Regions from separate parts of the Homo sapiens genome. Here regions 2, 3 and 4 are each reported to be linked to region 1. Evidence: microRNA targets listed by miRTarBase, many of them from high-throughput screens and not tested one by one. Region 1 holds a microRNA gene; each other region holds the end of a gene's coding sequence.

What was found. The annotated mature microRNA hsa-miR-576-5p reads AUUCUAAUUUCUCCACGUCUUU and lies in region 1 at 2,090-2,111, shown strand. An mRNA with a match to its seed (bases 2 to 7 or 8) in the 3' UTR can be bound and repressed. Matches are read on the target gene's strand: a 7mer-m8 pairs with bases 2 to 8, a 7mer-A1 pairs with bases 2 to 7 and ends in A, and an 8mer does both.
Region 2: miRTarBase lists DPF3 as a target of hsa-miR-576-5p. Seed matches in the 3' UTR shown: 7mer-A1 at 526-532.
Region 3: the mRNA of SMC5 is a reported target of hsa-miR-576-5p. Seed matches in the 3' UTR shown: 7mer-A1 at 1,673-1,679.
Region 4: the mRNA of LRPPRC is a reported target of hsa-miR-576-5p. Seed matches in the 3' UTR shown: 7mer-m8 at 2,402-2,408.

The regions. Positions count from the first base shown.
Region 1 is chr4:109,486,624-109,489,788 of GRCh38, forward strand. MIR576 (microRNA 576) reads left to right here and starts at 2,075; the gene lies at 2,075-2,172. All of the region lies in intron 4 of SEC24B (SEC24 homolog B, COPII component), which reads left to right.
Region 2 is chr14:72,616,766-72,619,930 of GRCh38, forward strand. It overlaps DPF3 (double PHD fingers 3), which reads right to left. Exons shown (of 11, transcript NM_001280542.3): 10 at 3,138-3,165; 11 at 1-2,602. The coding sequence ends at 2,532. It also overlaps a transcript of RGS6 not described here. Among named protein-coding and RNA genes, the nearest start is that of MIR7843, 100 kb to the left of the region's middle. RefSeq lists an enhancer at 1,911-3,110.
Region 3 is chr9:70,351,662-70,354,826 of GRCh38, forward strand. SMC5 (structural maintenance of chromosomes 5) reads left to right here. Exons shown (of 25, transcript NM_015110.4): 25 at 530-3,165. The coding sequence ends at 670. Among named protein-coding and RNA genes, the nearest start is that of KLF9-DT, 61 kb to the right of the region's middle.
Region 4 is chr2:43,885,995-43,889,159 of GRCh38, reverse strand. LRPPRC (leucine rich pentatricopeptide repeat containing) reads left to right here. Exons shown (of 38, transcript NM_133259.4): 38 at 504-2,936. The coding sequence ends at 560. Among named protein-coding and RNA genes, the nearest start is that of ABCG8, 49 kb to the right of the region's middle.

The sequences.
Region 1 (3,165 bases):
CCCATTTGATCTCAGAATACTTATTATCAGTAATTGTAGTGTGAAGTGACTGAGGCAAATCGATGCTATCCAAGGATTAAGCATGGGACAAGTACCAAAGCCATTGATTCAGTGGAAACCAGCTTGTATGCTGAAAGCAGTATTTTGCTTGGTATCAGGATTCCAAAGATCAATATATTAGCATAGCTCTGGCCATCAAATACGTATAATATGATAGGGAAACAGATACCATATGATTACAGTACAACTTGAAAAGTGTAAGCAGGCGCGGTGGCTCACGCCTGTAATCCCAGCACTTTGGGAGGCTGAGATGGGCAGATCACCTGAGGTCAGGAGTTTGAGACCAGCCTGGCTAACATAACGAAACCCCATATCTACTAAAAATACAAAGATTAGCCGGCCGTGGTGGCTGGCGTCTGTAATCCCAGCTGCTTTGGAGGCTGAGGCAGGAGAATCACTTGAACCCGGGAGACAGAGGTTGCAGTGAGCTGAGATCACGCCACTGCACTACAGCCTGAGTGACAAGAGTGAGACTCTGTCTCAAAAAAAAAAAAAAAAAAAGAAAAGTGTATTAATTCAGGATTGAGAATGTGCTCCTGCATAGAAGAGGAAATGATTTTCTGTGGGCATACAGGAAAAGTTTGACAAAGGATTTGAAATTTGAAGGATGAGTAGTAATTTGCCATGTGAAGAAAGGAAATTATGGCTAACAGACATAATGCATAAACAGAAGAAAAAAATGTAGTATTGGGTCAAGAGTCAGAAGTTTGGTGTAACTGCAAAATAAGGTAAAAGGGAGGATGGTAAAGGGACAGGTGAGAGATGCAGGTGGAAAGGACAAGTAGAAGCCAAATTTTGAAGTTTGTTTTATGACAGTGTGAAGGCATTTACACCTTATTCACTAAGATGGTGGGGAAATTAGTAAAGGCTGTTTCTAAGCATGTTCAGAATGTTAACACATAAGTTTTCAATCAGGTACTGTTTTATAAAAATACCTTTTTGATTTATTTGCCAGTAATGGCATGACCTCTGATTAATGCGTTACTTAGAACGCATTAATCTAAATAGCAAAATATCATGAGTCTGTTTAGCTTACTGATTTATTTGGGTTTATAACAATTATCATTGCTTTGATATTTTGACAGGTTCACAAATAGAGATTTGCAGTCATTTTTTCTTCTGAAAGTGAATTTAAAGTAAACTAGCAGATTTCAAACTATTCAGTAAACAAAATAGAATAAAAAAATTAATACTTTAAAACTTATAGCCTTATTAAAATGAACAATCTTTAAAATATTAACAGTTGATTTGACATGAAAGAAACTAAACATCTTAACTGAGTAGTAGTATGTTCTTTGGAATAAGTTCATATATAAGTAATCTTTTATCTTTGGACTTTATTTTTTTTCAAGAGTAGTTATTTCTTGATATATACATTTAAAAGTTTTTCTTAGAATGCCCATGATATTTTTAATAGCAGTTTTGAGAAATAATTCACATACCATAAAATTCACCTATTTAAGTTGTGCTGTTCTGCAGTTTTTAGCATATTCACAAAGTAGCAACCATCACTACTATGTAATTCCAGAACATTTTCTTCACCCCAAAATAGAAACTTCATATGTTTTAGCCTTCTTCCCATTCTACCCTCCCCGCACAACCACACGCAGCTCTAGGCAGCCATTAATCCTCTGTCTCTACAGGTTTGTCTATTTTGAACATTTTATATGTAGAGATCATATAATATGTGGTTGTTACTTGCATCTTTCTTTTAACATAATGTTTTCAAGGTTCATCCACATTATGGCATATGTCAGTACTTTATTATTTTTTGTTACCAAAAAATATTCCATATGTGAATGTATCACATTTTATTTATCCATTCATGAGTTGATGGACATTTGGGTTGTTTCTGCTTTTTGGCTGTTATGAATACTCCTGCTGTGAACATTTGTCAACAAGTTTTTGTGTAGGTTTATGTTTTCATTTCTCTTGAGTAGAATTGCTGGGTCAGAACTCTGTATTTAACTTTTGAGAAACTGCCAAACTGTTTTCCAAAGTAACTGCACCATTTTACAATCCAACGAGGATTCTAATTTCTCCACGTCTTTGGTAATAAGGTTTGGCAAAGATGTGGAAAAATTGGAATCCTCATTCGATTGGTTATAACCATCCTAGTGGATGTGAAATGTTATCTCGTTGTTTTGATTTTCATTTTCCTAATGGGATTGTGATGTTGAGCATCTTTTCATGTGTTTATTGGTCATTTGTTTATCTTCTTTGGATAAATATCTGTTCAAATCTTTTGCCCATTTTAAATTTGGTTATTTGTTGTTTTATTGTTGAGTTGTAAGAGTTTGTTACATATTCTGGATATTAACCCCTTATCAGATATATGATTTGCAAATATTTACTCTCATTCTGTGGGTTGTCTTTTTACTTCTTGATGATACGGTAACCTTTAGAGCACAAAAGTTCTTAATTTTGATGAAGTCCAAATTATCTTTTTTCTTTTGTTGCTTGTACCTTTGATGTCATATCTAAAAATTCATTTAGTCATGAAGATTTATTCCTGTATTCTAAGAGTTTTATAGTTTTAGCACTTACATTTTATGTCTATGATCCATTTTGAGTTAGTTGTGGTGTAGGGAAGGGGTCCAGCTTTGTTCTTCTGCGTGTGGATATGTCTAGTTGTTCCAGCACCATTTGCTGAAAAGAATATTATTTCCCCATTGAAATGTCATGGTAAATTGTTTAGTTTTATTAAGGAAAAATATGCATAACATAAAATTAACTGTTTTAAATTGTATAATTCAGTGGCATTTAGTACATGTACAGTGTTGTGCAGTCCCCACTTCTATTTAGCTCTATCTAATTTTGTGAAGTACTAGACATTTTCATCATCCCAAAAGAAAATCCTACACTCAGTCACTCCCCATTTTCCCCTCCCCTCAGCCTGGGTCTTTCATATAAATAGAATTATATATATTATATATTATAATATATATGGTATATATATGATATATATGGTATATATATGATATATACATGTGATATATACATATGATAATATATATGGTCTTTTTTGTTTGATTTATTTCACTTAAGCAAATTTTCAGGTTTCATTCACATTGTAGCGTGTATCCATACTTCATTTTTATGGCT
Region 2 (3,165 bases), not on the chromosome of region 1:
TCTCTGGGGTTCAAAAAAAAGAGACCAATTTAAAGTTTACCAACCCCGTCCTCTTTTGAACACAGAGGTGATAAATGTGACCACGGAGACTTTTGTCTGCTTGTAGTACCCTGACAGTGCCAGCCCACAAGCTGGCTTGCTATCCCCGCTTTCCAGATGGGGAAACTGAGGCCTCCAAAGATGAAGAATGGGTTGGGCCCATTCTTCAGGGAGTAATGAAGCTGAGAGGGGAACTCCGGGGCCATCCTAACGTCACTCCAGAGCCCTGACCCTCACCAGTGCAGGCAAGTTCCAGTGCCCTGCCTTGGCCTGGGAGACCCAGCTGAGGCTCAGCTTGTGTAGGCAGAGCAGACATGGGGCTGAGATCGAACAGGGCTGCCCTATCACCTGCACTTCTGTGGAAAACAAATTTGCACATACTCTGAAGAGGACGTGTGAAGTTGTAGAGCCACAGTTTGGGGTTTCGGACTTGCTTTTTAAACTTTTAAGCTATTGTGGCACTTGGGAACATTTGGGGAACTTTTTTTTCTAAATTTAAATTAAAATGACGCTCAAAACCAATTATTAGCCTTTGGAGACAGCCTGCTTTGGGTTTTGTGGGAAGAGAGAGAGCTGGAGTAGTCAGGAGAAAAAATGTGCCCCTCTGATGGAATGTCACCCTCCCTATCCCTCCCTGGGCCTTCAGGATTCAGACAAGCTCACCGACCAGCAGGCGGAAGGAAATTACTTATGAGGAAGATGAAAATTCCATCCGGTCGGGGGCCCTTTAAATGAGACCATTATGTATGTGTGTGATTCCCTCTGAGGCCACAGGCCCCTGCAGGAGAGTGACCCCCATCGCTTGCCACAGGTCACTCTGCTGAAGCGTGGGGGAGACCCACACTGCTTGGTTTCATGCCAGGCTGCCCTGGGTCCACTGGCCAAGAGCAATTAGCCTAGAGAGGAGCACTCCTGCCGAGGGACAGCACAAATACTGCGGCCGGGCAGAGGTGGCCCAACTAGCCCGAGTCTCCGGGAGCGTCCTCAGGAGCTGAAGAACTAAAAATAACCTGGGCCTTTGTTGTGAGCAGCCAGACCACAGAGATGGAGCTGATTTCAGAGAAGCCAAGCATGCGCGAGGGTTCCGCTCACCGAGACCTGCCCTTTGGGCAAATGATTTTTCCAGAAATATGTCAGTTATTGTGCTGCTGCTGCGATTCAAAGTCAGCCCAATCCGCTCCAGCCCTCGGGGCTATCTTCCAACACACAGAGTTCTCGGAAGCTCAGCCTCCCCACCTCTTTCTTCTAGACACATTTTTTTTTGAAAACAAGAGTCCTGCATGTTTGGGGAGCTTAGGAGACAAGAGCAGCCCCCGCACTGAGAGTTCTAAAATGTGGCCACCCTGGTCGTGAATAATGACCATGTCACCCTAATTATTTGTTTAGATAACAATCTTCTCTCCCCCATCCTAAAATTCCCAGTCAGGTCTCAGTAGACAATAGCGAACAAACACTACGTGGAAGGAAGAAATTACTTGGAAAAAGGAATTCAGAGCGTCGCATCAATACTGAAGGTTTCTCAAAGCTGCAGCCCCCTGTATCCAGCATTCGGACACATGATTGGGCAGCCTTCGCTCCCCTTCCTGGTTCTTCAGTCCCACCAGGAGAAGCTGAACCAGGTCTCCAGAACCAGGTGGGCTGAGAGGCAGAGGCTTGACCGTCTTCCTCTGTCCATAGGCCATGACTGGTCTCACCTAAAGGATGCCCCAGCTCTGAAGGTCAAGGAACCAGCCTGGCCTCTTGCAAAGTCTCTCCCGATGGATAACAAGTACTGACTGGCTATGGCGGGGCCTTGGCACCATTTCCACAATGTTTCCTCCCATGTCTCTGCGCGTCTCCCTCCCTCCCCGCCCCCATCTAGTAACTTTAAGCAGTGGCTCAAGACCAGGCTGGCTGTGGATGCCACTGCTGGGGTTCTAGAAGGCAACTCTTTGTCTCCACAGACACCAAGGAACAAGAAAGGGTTTCAAGACCCCAAGTCTAGAAGTTTCCAGTGAGGCTTGCCATAAACGACAACTTCTCCACAGCCCTTTGTTCCTCAGGTGAGAATTTCAGGATGCAGACCCTAAGCTGGGGGCACGGGGGCTGTGCCAAGATTTCTTGGAACACAATAGATAAAAAAACACCACACTACACACAAGTAATGGATGAGTGGTCAGGAAATGGCTTCCCTTAAAATGGGAACCAATGAGAGGGCCTCGGTGCTAGGGTAAAAGTGAGAGGGGTTCCACAGGGCTGGGGCCGGAGGTGTTCTCCCAAAGTGCAACTTCCTTCCGGTAGAGACAAGGAGGTGCTGGCTGAAGTTCCGTACATATCGGGGGAGGTCAGGAGATGCCTCACCCTCTTCGTTCCATGTGTCCCTGCCCCTCTGGGACTATTTCTTTTCCTTGCAGTTGGTCTGGCTGGATATGTGGGAGGAGGGCGCGTTCTGGTTTGAACTGGGCTCTGCTTTAGGATCTCCAGCAGCGAGTCACATTCTGTGACCTGGGGCCCTAGGCCTGGCAGCCAAAGGCTGAGGCTTTCTCTTTGAGCAGTTCCCAGCATAAGTGGCAGCTCCAGCTTCCTGCAAGAAATGAGACGGCTTTAGTAGCAGCCCCTCTGCTAACTCTGGAGCCCCACCCCACTGGCCCTAACTTCTTGTAAATCCTGTTTCCTTTGAACTTTGGCAATGCAGAAACCAAGTCCCAGGCCTGAAAACGTGCCAGAGTCTGTGGCTCAGCAGAAAGCAGGTGCTCAGAGGAGATGGGCTCAACTCTTATCAAGACCCTCACTACTAGCGTCATGCCTCCAAACTAGTGTCGCCGGGCCTGCGCCAGTTCTCCTGGAAGCTCACACCTCCCGGTCATCTCCACTGCATGTCTGGGAAAAACTTCCTTGGCCCTCAAGTTGAAATTTCAGCTGCTTGGACTGTGCCTCAGTTTCCTCATCTGTAAAATGGCAGTCGTCGTACCTACCTTGTGGGGTTGTGATGATTAAATGAGACAAGACATGAACATGTAAACCCATTAGCATAAGGCCTGTACCATAGTGAGAGCTCAGTAAGTGCTAGTAGTAGTAGTATCTGTTGCTGTTCTTATTGTTGACTTCATCATCATTACCTTCTGGGGGCTCAGCCACCGGGGGATT
Region 3 (3,165 bases), not on the chromosome of region 1:
AATCTAGAGGGCTGGATTATTCCTTATTTTGATTGTTCCTTAGGCCAGGCTACAGGTATGCTAATTTAGGTAAGGATTACAGTCTGGCAAGGTTTATATTGAGGTGTTTAAGAGCTTCTTAAGAGTCTTATTGGCTGGGGACAGTGGCTCACACCTGTAATCTCAGCACTTTGGGAAGCCAAGGCGGGCAGATCACCTGAGGTCAGGAGTTCGAGACCAGCCTGGCCAACATGGTGAAACCCTGTCTGTACTAAAAATACAAAAAGTTAGCTGGGCCTGATGGTGCATGCCTGTAATCCCAGCTACTCTGGAGGCTGGCTGAGGCACGAGAATCTCTTGAATCTGGGTGGTGGAGGTTGCACTGAGCTGAGATCGCACCTCTGTACTCCGGCCTGAGCAGCAGAGTGGGAAAAAAAAAGTTTTATTAATATTGCAAATAAAATAATACATTTGACTGTACACATGTAAGGTTGGAAAACTATACTTCTCAGTATATAGCTTATATGACAATTTGTTTTAATACTTACAGCTCCTGCAAAATCTTCCTTATTCTGAAAAGATGACAGTTTTGTTTGTCTACAATGGCCCTCATATGCTGGAACCAAACACATGGAATTTAAAGGCTTTCCAAAGGCGGCGGCGCCGTATTACATTCACTCAACCTTCTTAATAAAAGTAAAGAGAGGGAACTTGGGAATTTTTTTTGTTAAATTCTGTTTATAAGTATGGCTCAACTGAATAAAAGGAGATTCACTAAAACGAAAAGCAGTTATTTTTGGAAACCTGCTTTTAAATACAAATAGGTTGATAATGGAAACTATAATGACCTTTCCAAAATAGCAGCTGGTAGTAAAAGTTAAGTCTTCTTCAGTCTTGGTTGAACTTGAGTTCTTGGCACTCTGACCATGAGTCATTCAGTTCTCATGTTAAAATGTACTTAATATTACAAATCAAAGGTACAGTGGAAGAAGGGTTAATCACAAGAAGTTACTTATATGGTAGCCCTGAGCTTTAATTGCAGAGTAACTTTAATTACTTTTAGAGCCTAAAGATGACTCTAGAGCCTAAGTCCTAGTTTCTCCCAATGTTATATTTAATTTTAAAAAATTGATATGAAAATGTCTAATGTATAGTAATAATTTATGACAGATCTAGTCATTTCTTCCTATTAAAAAAGATTACCTTATCTCCAGTAGGAAATGGAATTTTATGGGCCTTTAAAAGAAAGTTTTATGAAACTTGATGCTATAATTTTATTGGTATTTCAAGGGGAAAAAAGCACTGGGGTTCAAAAATGGTAGCAGAACTGCTTTGAAATGCTGCAAGGTGGCCACTAGATGATGCAAAATACAACCAAAAGATTGACTGAGAATAAAATTAGGTGACAAGGGTTTTTAAAGAATAACCTTTTAAAGTGTGGGGGCAGGGGTTGCTTTTTTTTATTTTATTTAAAGTCAATTATATTTTACATCTTACATTTCTAAAAGCATTTTATAATTATTTTTAGTAAGATTTTTCTTAAAATTTCATATACTGGTTTCTACAATTTATATTTGAAATTTCTCAGTGTTATGTAAAGAGTGATGGAAAAGCATTGATTTCTTTAAAACCGTAATGTTTTTAGAACTTAAGCCTATAGGGCCTTTCTTACAATGTTGATGTACCCATTATCTTAGAAAATCTAGTTTAAACTGTTTTCTTTCACCGCAAAAGAATTAAATGGGAAAATCATTTGTTTATCTCTAAGTTATACTAATTAGTAGAACCAAACAAATTATCTTCTTTTAAAAAATAAATCTTATAGGAAAATAGACAGTCCAAAGTCATGTCTTTGAACAGTGGATTGGATCTGTGCCAGTAATGACAAAATTATTTTTTTGACTTGCTTGCCTGAATAAATTGAAGAATTGCTTTCAGTTTGGGTTTTGTATATTCTTAAGTAGCCATTGAAATTTATATTCTTAACTAGGTCAAAAAATAATGAGCCATAAGTTTATGTCCTCTCACTTAGACATTTTCTCTTTAAAAAGGTATTTTCTTCTTTATAAACATTTTAAAAGAGCCTTCCCTTCTTAAACTAACTCCAGTGCATGAAGTGTGAAAATATTTTAAAATGACATTTTTACTAATATGAGCAAGTCATGTAAACATTGAAGAACTTGGTAACATATTAGTAAATGGATATTACCAAATGTTTTCATCGTTAATTACTTTGCGTTCCACCAAAATATCTTTACTAAAATGTGCTTGGTGTAGTTTGTTTATTGTCTAAATTAGTACCAGTCATCTTATTTCTGCAAAATGAGTATCAATGTGAAAAAGACACGTGAAGATTAAGCATGTTTGAAAATAAAATGGTCAATTACATTTCAATTTACATAGGCCAACAACTGTTCCATACTTTGTTTGTAAACATTTAATTTCTCTACTGGACAAAATTAATATTTGGCTTTACATTGAATTTTGAGCTGTGAAGAATAAATTATGTATCATTTTAGCATATTAAACAGTAGTAAGTCTAGCACATAGTCTCAGCCACTTAAAACAAAAGTTTTTTTGTTTGTTTGTTTGTTTGTTTTTTTGAGATGGAGTCTCACTCTGTTGCCCAGGCTGGAGTGCAGTGGCGTGATCTCGGCTTACTGCAACCTCCGCCTCCCGGGTTCAAGCGATTCTCCTGCCTCAGCCTCCCAAGTAACTGGGACAACAGGCGCGTCCCACCACACCCAGCTAATTTTTTATACTTTTAGTAGAGATGGGGTTTCAGCATATTGGCCAGGCTGGTCTCGAACTCCTGACCTTGTGATCCACCCGCCTCGGCCTCCCAAAGTGCTGGGATTATAGGCGTGAGCCCCTGCACCCGGCCAAAAGTTGATTTTTAATTACATAAAAATCGTAAAAACTTCTAGTAAAAACTTGATTTGGTGAATACAGTTATATTTAAAAACCTTAAGGTGACAAGCATTTTCTATGCCTAAATCTTCATTGGTTTGCCTGGAAAGAGTCTCTGTTAAAAGATTTTCCATATTCAAAGTAAAAGGAAAGATTTCTTGCTTTCTAATTGTCTTTTGGACACATGCCTATTTTCTTTGAGGTATAAACCTTTAGATGTGAAAAATGTAATTTCATTCTGCTATTGTGTGTGCTTGTGTGTGTGTAATTGAAAAA
Region 4 (3,165 bases), not on the chromosome of region 1:
TATTTTTAGTACAGATGGGGTTTCACCATGTTGGCCACGCTGGTCTTGAACTGCTGACCTCGTGATCCGCCCACCTCGGCCTCCCAAAGTGCCGGGATTACAGGCGTGAGCCACTGTGCCCGGCATGTTTTCTTTAATAAGAGAAATCACATATGCACAATTCCTTTTTGTTATGTCATTGAACTGAGTCAATACACCGTGTTTATTTCAAACACCTCAGCCTTCCATACCCATACCTCCATATGTGCACACACACATGCTTGCACATACACACGTATACACACACGCACCCTACCTCCTGCTGCTAGCTTTAACTCTGAACCCGAGGCCCTTGAACTTGTGATTTCATGAAACAAGGAAGGAGTACTGAAGCTTGAGGGGCAGCATCTTCCATGGGCCTGGCAGTCTTAGCTACCAGTTGGTAGTGTTTTATGATTTTTTAAGTTATGTACCATCACCTCTTGCTGGTATCTCTAACTTCCCTCTTTTTTTCTCCTTAACAGGAAAGCTTTGAATTTTATGCACAGCAGCTAAGAAAATTGAGGGAAAACTCTTCTTGAAATAACCAGGCGATACTTTGTTTTGTATATATTTGTGATTCTGTGTCTACATGTTATTTTGAAGTATATCTGAGGGAAAAATAAATGAAAATTTTCTTTATGTACTTATGTATGTGTGATGCATGTTCAAAGTCTTATTGACCATAACTCTGTGCACTTGGTTATTGGACATTTTTGGAGTTTTTTTCTCTGGGAAAAATCGATAGTGTTTTCTTCAATGCTGCTGCTGTGTGAAGCCATACTTTTTCAGGATTCTTCCCCTAATTGGCTCTTTGGTTTCCCTGCTCTGTTTCATTTATTTCATTAAAATGTTATTCCTTTATTTAAGATTCACTTATTAGTCTGCTGTTTCTCTGAAAAATTTTAGAGCTAGGTATAGTGACCGTGAACTTTCTAACGCATAATATTCTGTGATACAGCCATTCCGTACATGTGTGAAGTCCTGCATAACTTTCGAACTTTGTTAAATGTTGGCACTAGGAGTCATCAGATCTAGGCTTCATCATTTTCCAGTGAGAAGCAGAGACCCAAAGGGCCTGTTACTTGTGCTTGGTCAGGGGACTGTCTGTCATGCCTGGAGGCTCTTCGGCACACTTCCCCATCTTTCCCTTCTGCCACTGTGGCTTCAAGCACCTCTGTTCATAGAGCGTCTCTGAAATTGAGTCTCGGTCATGACTTATCCCGAAGTAGAGCAATGTGTTTCCTCTCATTGTAGTTTCAGGACTTTGTCAGTACAAGCTCTGCCCTAGGCTTGTTACTTTATACTCATATCCTGAAAAGATGTGATTTCATCTATGAAGGGGTAAAATATTGGTTTGTATTTAATTGTTTGAAATAAAAGTGATCCCTATATTGAATCTCATGCCTGTTAATATCTACACTGTAAGTAGTGACTTCAAAAAAATTCTAAGATAGGTAGTCAGGAGAGTTTGCCATTATAAAAGGTGTCTTAATAATATGGAATATTGACCTAACTGGAGATGAGGTAATTAATTACCGAAATGTTGAAAATGTTTTGAGAACTCTCCCCATTTTGGGGTATTCCTTGTTCATTTGAATTTGGTGACTCCCTACTGTTCCAGTTTCAGTGCCAACTTGGGTCACACTGTTCACATCAGGGGAGACCTTGCCTTGGGGACGTAGGCGGGCCTCTTGCAACTTGTGCTGTTGACCTTCTGTCTTGTGGAACTCTCTCTCCTGCATCTGCTACCTGCCCGCAGATGGTGTGAGGGAGGGTTGATGGCGGGAAGCCAGGAAGTAGATGTCATCATGGTATTGGCCAGGCTTTTACTTCAACTCTTTTTGTGGCGTTAGATTTAAGGAAGCAGGGGGCATGGCCAACGTTGAGTCTTGGCCCAGTGGACATAGTGCGGCTTTCCCTTGAGCACTGCCCAGATGCAGGACCTGCACATGTTACAGGTTTGCCAAAAGCATCTTTTTTTTTTTTTTTTTTTTTGAGATAGTCTTGCTCTGTTGCTTAAGCCAGAGTGCAGTGGCGCAATCTCAGCTCACTGCAACCTCCGCCTCCTGGGTTCAAGTGATTCTTGTGCCTCAGCCTCCCACGTAGCTGAGATTACAGGCTTGCACCACCATGTTCAGCTAATTTTTGTATGGTAAAGACGGAGTTTCACCATGTTGGCCAGGTTGGTCTCGAACTCCTGGCCCCAAGTGATCCTCCCCCTGCGCTCGCTTCAGCCTCCCAAAGTGCTGGGATTACAGGTGTGAGCCACCACGCCTGGCCAAGAGCCTCACTCCTGTCTTTAGTGATTGCACTGAAGCAGGCCTCATTTTTTTGCAGTCATGCTAACCACAAGTTAGTCAACATTCACTAATTGACATTCATTAGAATAGGTCTCCAAGGTGAGGCATAACGTTGGGGTGTAATCTGGATTTCGCAGTCATCTTTTTGGGGAAACTGAAAGTACCATCTCATTTGCATGAAGTGACTCCACACTGGCCCTGTATATGGACTCTGGTAAAATGTGAGTGTGGTACAGAGGAAATAGGTAAGACCCCCTTATCTAGCCCTCTCGGCAGCAGCGGGGGGGTGTTACAAAGGACTAGCTGTTCAAATATCTTTTGTATTGTATTGATTCCCCTATTGAATATAAATATTTAAAGTATAATAACTATACTGTAGGTGGGCTTATGAGTGTTCTAAATATCTAATAGCTAAATTGAAATAAGTAGAAATATAAACAATTTAGCAGCTTTCTGTAATACATTTACACTCAAATTATAAGCAGCTAATTCTAAAAAAGATGTCACTGTAAACTATTGAGAACTATAGTATTTTATATATAATTATATGTTCATGTATTTGAACCCAAAATAATTTTAACTGAAATGCTTTGAATAAAGTATACTGTAAATATCTGTGGGCTGCTGCTGCTTTTTTTTTTTCTTTTTTAAACAAACAGTCTCACTCTGTTGCCCGGCCTGTAGAGCAGTGGCGTGATCACGGCTCATTGCAGTCTTGACCTCCCAGTCTCAGGTGATCCTCCCACCTCAGACTCCCAAGTAACTGAGACTACAGGTGCATGCCACCACGGCCAGCTAATTTTTTGTATTTTGAAGAAACAGAGTTTTGTCCGGTTGCCCAGGC